2 linked regions of the Homo sapiens genome follow. The protein of the gene in region 1 purifies or fractionates together with the protein of each later gene. This does not show direct contact. Each region holds a gene or a part of one and is shown in the gene's direction. Other genes may lie near its edges.

Region 1 (2,387 bases):
CATGTTGGCCAGGCTGGTCTCGAACTCCTGGCCTCAAGTGATCCACCCGCCTTGGCCTTCCAAAGTGCTGGGATTACAGGTGTGAGCCACGGTGCCCGGCCAAGAGCTGTTGGTTTCATTCATATCTGAAAGCATCTTGCGTGGGAGAGGCAGGTACAAATGTATTGGTCAGTTTTGGCCCGGTGCGGTGGCTCACGGCTGTAATCCCAGCACTTTGGGAGGCCGAGGTGGGCGGATCATGAGGTCAGGAGTTCGAGACTGGCCAACACAGTGAAACCCCGTCTCTACTAAAAATACAAAAATTAGCTGGGCGTGATGGTGGGTGCCTGTAATCCCAGCTACTTGGGAGGCTGAAGCAGAAGAATCGCTTGAACCCGGGAGGCGGAGGTTGCAGTGAGCCAAGATCGTGCCACTGCACTCCAGCCTGGGCGACACAGTGAGACTCCGTCTCAAAAAAAAGAAAAATGTATGGGTCAGTCTTATGAATTTATTAAAGATCATCATTCCTTTAAGCATTTTTCTATGCCTCATATACAATCAACATTTTTCTATACCTTATATACATCTAATAAATAAAAATTTATTTCCCTAATGCCGGGTACAGTGACTCACACCTGTAATCCCAGCCCTTTGAAAGGCTGAGGTGGGAAGATCGCTTGAGGCCAGGAGTTCAAGACCAGCCTGGGCAACATAGCCAGACCCCATTCCTGCAAAAAAAATTAAAAATTGGCTGGGCATAGTGGTGCATGCCTGTAGTCTCAGCTACTTGGGAGACAGAGGTGGGAGGATCCCTTGAGCCCAGGAGTTTGAATTTGTGAGGACCTATGATCACTGCACTCCAGCCTGGGCAACAAGAGCAAAACTGCGTCTAAAAAAAAAAAAAAAAAAGGCCAGGCGTGGTGGCTCACGCTTGTAATCCCAGCACTTTGGGAGGCCAAGGTGGGCGGATCACGAGGTCAGGAGATCGAGACCATCCTGGCTAACACGGTGAAACCCCGTCTCTACTAAAAATACAAAAAATTAGCTGGGCGTGGTGGCGAGCACCTGTAATCCCAGCTACTTGGGAGGCTGAGGCAGGAGAATGGCGTGAACCTGGGAGGCGGAGCTTGCAGTGAGCTGAGATCGCGCCACTGCACTCCAGCCTGGGTGACAGAGCAAGACTCCATCTCAAAAAAAAAAAAATTATATATATATATACATATATATATATATATCCCTAAATTTTAAAATTCTGTCAATATATTTTTATTAGATTTTAGTTTTTCTAGAGACAGGGTCCCACTCTGTCATTCAGGCTGGAGTGCAGTGGCGTAATCATAGCTCACTGCAGCCTCGAACTCCTAGGCTCAAGGGATCCTCTCATCCCAGCCTCCCAAGAAGCTGAGACTACAGGTGCACAATGCCACAGCCACCTATTTTTATTTTTTTAGAGATGAAAGTCTCAGGCTGGTCTTGAACTTCTGGGGTCAAGAGATCCTCCCTTCTCCACCTCCCAAAACACTCGGATTACAGGTGCCAATCACCATGCCTGGCCCAAATTCCATAAATTTAATCAAAATCTTCTAAATGACTAATACAATACCAGTTTCTTTTTTCTGAGCCAGAGTGTCGCTCTGTCGCCCAGGCTGGAGTGCAGTGGCATGATCTCGGCTCACTGCAACCTCCGCCTCCCGGGTTCAAGCGATTCTTCTGTCTCAGCCTCCCGAGTAGCTGGGATCACAGGCACCCGCCACCACGCCTGGCTAATTTTTTGTATTTTTAGTAGAGATGGGGTTTCACCATGTTGGCCAGGCTGGTCTCAAACTCCTGACCTCAAGTGATCCACCTGCCTCGGCCTCCCAAAGTGCAGGGATTACAGGCGTGAGCCATCTCACCCGGCCAATACGTTTCTTTTACATGCTTTAAATACCTTAAAGTAGGCAGAATCTCAAATAGTGCAAGGATGCGTATTGCCCTATGGCAACAGTGAGTGGCGACAGTGAGCTGTTATGGAGCTGTCCAGACTTTTCCTCCCTCCAGTGAGTGCCAGCTGTCCTTGCATGGAGTCCTGGTTCCTTTGGTGGAGAATGGTGTTGAAAATCTCAGCCTTTGCGGCGGAGAGCGGGGACATGGGACACAGGGGAGTTGGTGGTGGGCAGAGATGCTGCTGGGCCACTTTCAGTGACAAAACATGACAGCAAAGGCTCTTGAAGTCAGGTGAGGCCCAGCCTGCCCTGTGGCGGAGAGGGAGTTTGGGAGGGGGTGAGGTGGATGGGTAGAGTGAGTGGGCGAAGGGGAGAGAGGAGGGAGAGAACCTGATCAAGGTCAAGAGTGCCCAGGGGACGACTTGGCCTTTACCGCATTGCGTGTTCAAGGCTTTTAGCCCAGATTTTCCTGGGCCATGTGAT
Region 2 (3,663 bases), on another chromosome or scaffold:
CTCTAACACTTTTTTGGAAAGGTGATATACTCTACTGTAACAAAAATGTAAATCACCCATTTGCAATCAATTTTCCTTAATTTCTAGATACACTGGTGATGATACTCAATGCTACTGACGCAGATGAACCGAACAATTTGAACTCAAAAATAGCCTTCAAGATTATAAGACAAGAACCTTCAGATTCACCAATGTTTATTATCAACAGAAATACTGGAGAAATTCGAACGATGAATAATTTTCTAGACAGAGAGGTAATTCTTTTTCTTTAAGTGGGTTTTTGGTCTCAAAGGAACTGATTCTAAAAGCAAGGATACTGAAGAGACAAAGAGATGAAGAAAATGATGGTTTAAATTTTTACTTGTATAACTTTTTCACATAATTCTTTCATGTAAGAAATATTTTTTAAATGAAAAAGGGAGGATTTTTCAATTACGTTTTGTACTATTTTTCATATAATTAATTGATTAAAATTTACTTCAATTTAAGAAAACTATATTGTGAAAGTACATGAAAATATGCCTAAGGTAGAATCTAAGGTAGAATCAAAAGCTCCATTTCTCTAAAAAGTGTGTTCTATAATAAAATGAATTTAGGAATGACTTGCTATATGTCCACGTTTTGGTGAGTTACAGTGCATGCGAGTATGCTGGAGGCTCCAGGAATATTGATACACTAAGTTCTCTTTCTTTAACCTAGCATATCTAAGCTCCATTGACAACAGAATTCTTGTTTTTCCTATGTAACATCTATTGATAGCTCACCCATTCATTTACTTTGGGAAATGAACCACAGGATAAGAATGATGGATAGGAATTAAATGACAGACTGACCAATCTTTTTATTTACAAATAAGAAAATAACTAGTGATGTTAACAGAGTAAAATCAGCATTATGAGGTTTCTAGCATGCCTTGTGATTTTATGATTTAGTTTTAAAATAAGTGCTTTTTCATTATTTAAAAAAAATTGTCTTTTAATAGAATGTTGCAACCTAAATGTACATTAGGAGCATAAGTGAGGAAGCTTTATTTTCTGATGGTATTCAATTAATTTTGTTTTAATTATTAAAAATGACAATCTTCTTGCTGATGACTTTTAGGTTTAGGATAATTCATATTATTTTAATACTCTTTAATTATCTAAATGTTACAAGTTTCTATGTTACCTAAGTCTCCTTTTATACATGTTTGAAAATCAACATTAGAAGAAATTGAATGTTTACACTTTTCTCTCTCAAACTGTCTTAAACAGCCCAATGAGGTTTCTTTCATGTCAAAAGAGCTTTCGTGGTAAAGCACTGTAAGAAAGGGCTGTCAGAAGGAAAGGGACTCTGCAGCCATTGGGAAGCCACCAGGGCAGATATTCTCAACCTGGGGTCAATGGAGAGACCTCAAGATGTCTCTATAAAACCCCCTAAATTATATCCACCATTTTGAATGAGTGTGCATTTTTGCATGAGTCAAGGAAAGCCTCCATAGATTTTACCAGCTTCTAGAAATATAAGCACCATTGAATAGAGTCAAGAATAGATACATCACCAATAATTCCACTGCCATAACCCACTACCTCTCAAAACACAAAGCTTTGTTATCTGTTTATATGCTTCTTGCACACTCGGGGGCTGATTATTTAGGTTATGGAATATTCATGCCATAAATTTTTGGTAAACTTAATCTCTCTCCTTGAGATCATTCTGGTTTGTTTTACCCTTTATAAACTTTTTCAACCTCTGGACATATTATTATTAATAAGAAATGAAGCCTTTTAAAACGTGTTGCATCTTTTAAATAATGCGTGATAAGTATTATTGGGAATAATCATGTGAAACTTGTGGATTTCCCATATTCTGTGTTAACCCTACCTCTATCATAGATTTATGTAAACGTTGAGCCAACTTTTCAAAGAACTTTACATAAGACAAAGTAAAGGCTGTCTACGTCAAGTGTGATATTGCCTGTAATATGTATTTTTAGCAATACGGCCAGTATGCTCTTGCTGTAAGAGGCTCTGACCGAGATGGCGGGGCAGATGGCATGTCAGCGGAATGTGAGTGCAACATTAAAATCCTCGATGTCAATGATAATATCCCTTACATGGAACAGTCTTCAGTAAGTATTTGTTCTTGGAATTAATAAATCTAAATTCGCTATATTCTAAAACATATACGAACAATTCTGCTTACAGAGGCACATGTTATGTTTATTGACATACAACCCAAATGTAGACACATACTTTTTTCTTGTGTTTATGCAAGAATAAATGGAGTTAAGCAATGAAAAATGAGATGAAAACCACAGATATCTTTTCTAAATAATGAAGTTATCAACATTCCAGTATAAGCCTACTGTAGTTCTCTCTCTTTCACACAGTTTGTGCTAAGAGTTTTCACTTCTTGTTTCAGTATACCATAGAAATTCAAGAAAATACTCTAAATTCAAATTTGCTCGAGATTAGAGTAATTGATTTGGATGAAGAGTTCTCAGCTAACTGGATGGCAGTAATTTTCTTTATCTCTGGAAATGAAGGAAATTGGTTTGAGATAGAAATGAATGAAAGAACAAATGTGGGAATTTTAAAGGTTGTTAAGGTATGGTATAATTATCCTAAATATTTTGTTTTCTTAATCTTTTTTCAAAATGTTAAACTTAAAATAAAATGATGCTAACATTTCACAAACTTGGCTTAGTGAAAGAATAAAAATTACTGTGTTTTAAATATATATATAACATAGAGCTTTTTAATATAGTCTTTCTGCTTATAATCATTTTAGAAAAACAGGTATTGAATTTTAACTGGAGACAGTTTGTCAATACAGTACTCCCAAATAGATCATATAAATTGAAAACACTTAAAAATATATTTTATGCTTACAACAAAGTATAATTAATCCTTAAGGTTAATGTCTTAAGAACTTTTTAAAGCATATTTAATAGAGGCTTTAAAACTGTGTCCATGTCAACATTGTAAGTCAATTATTACACATGTAGAATATTCATCATGTAAATAAAAATGTATTTATTCCTCCCGCGTGTTTTCATAAAATTTAAGTTAAATTACTATAAATGTAGAATTATCACACTCCCATCTCACTGTGGCTGCTGATCAAGGCTTATTAGGAACACAGATATACTGGAAATTTGGTCCAAGTCAACCGGTCCAGAACAACTGGATGCCGTTCTCTTATGTCCTCCCCATATTAATGGTCCACATTTACCTGCAGTAAAATTTCATCTGAGATGTGAGAAAAAAAATTTGCCTCCTAGGGAGCTGATAGTCAAAGTTTCGCCCTGTGCTACACAACTTACACAGTCGATTTTTAAAATCTACAACAGCTGTTTATGGATTGTATATGTTGCATGCAATATATAGTTTCATGGTAAAATATAATCCCTATTTAACTATTTCTTTTTTCAGACTAGGTCTGGAAAACAGACTCTCAAACGACTCTGTCCCCATACGAATGTGTGGCTTTTTGCCTCCTGTGTCTTCTTAAAGTGTCACCATGCCTACAGCTTGTATTTAATTTGAGACAGTACGCAGGTGCTTTAGTTTATCCCTCACAGCATCCCTGCAAATTAGGTTATATTATTTCCATATTGCAGATAAAGACATTGAGGCTCCAAGAGAGCACAGAACCTGCATAAGTTCTCATAGCTAGTAA

The links.
Region 2: the proteins of ZDHHC19 (region 1) and DSG1 purify together in Homo sapiens (affinity purification with mass spectrometry; one large-scale study listed by BioGRID and IntAct). This does not show direct contact.

Annotation. Positions count from the first base shown.
Region 1 is NC_000003.12:196,199,155-196,201,541, reverse strand, and holds part of ZDHHC19 (palmitoyltransferase ZDHHC19), read left to right. Parts: intron 1-2,019; exon of another isoform or gene 2,020-2,196; intron 2,197-2,387. UniProt on the Homo sapiens protein: Palmitoyltransferase that mediates palmitoylation oproteins, such as RRAS and SQSTM1. Catalyzes palmitoylation of RRAS, leading to increased cell viability.
Region 2 is NC_000018.10:31,331,614-31,335,276, forward strand, and holds part of DSG1 (desmoglein-1 preproprotein), read left to right. Parts: intron 1-87; coding exon 88-254; intron 255-1,975; coding exon 1,976-2,110; intron 2,111-2,403; coding exon 2,404-2,589; intron 2,590-3,663. UniProt on the Homo sapiens protein: Component of intercellular desmosome junctions. Involved in the interaction of plaque proteins and intermediate filaments mediating cell-cell adhesion.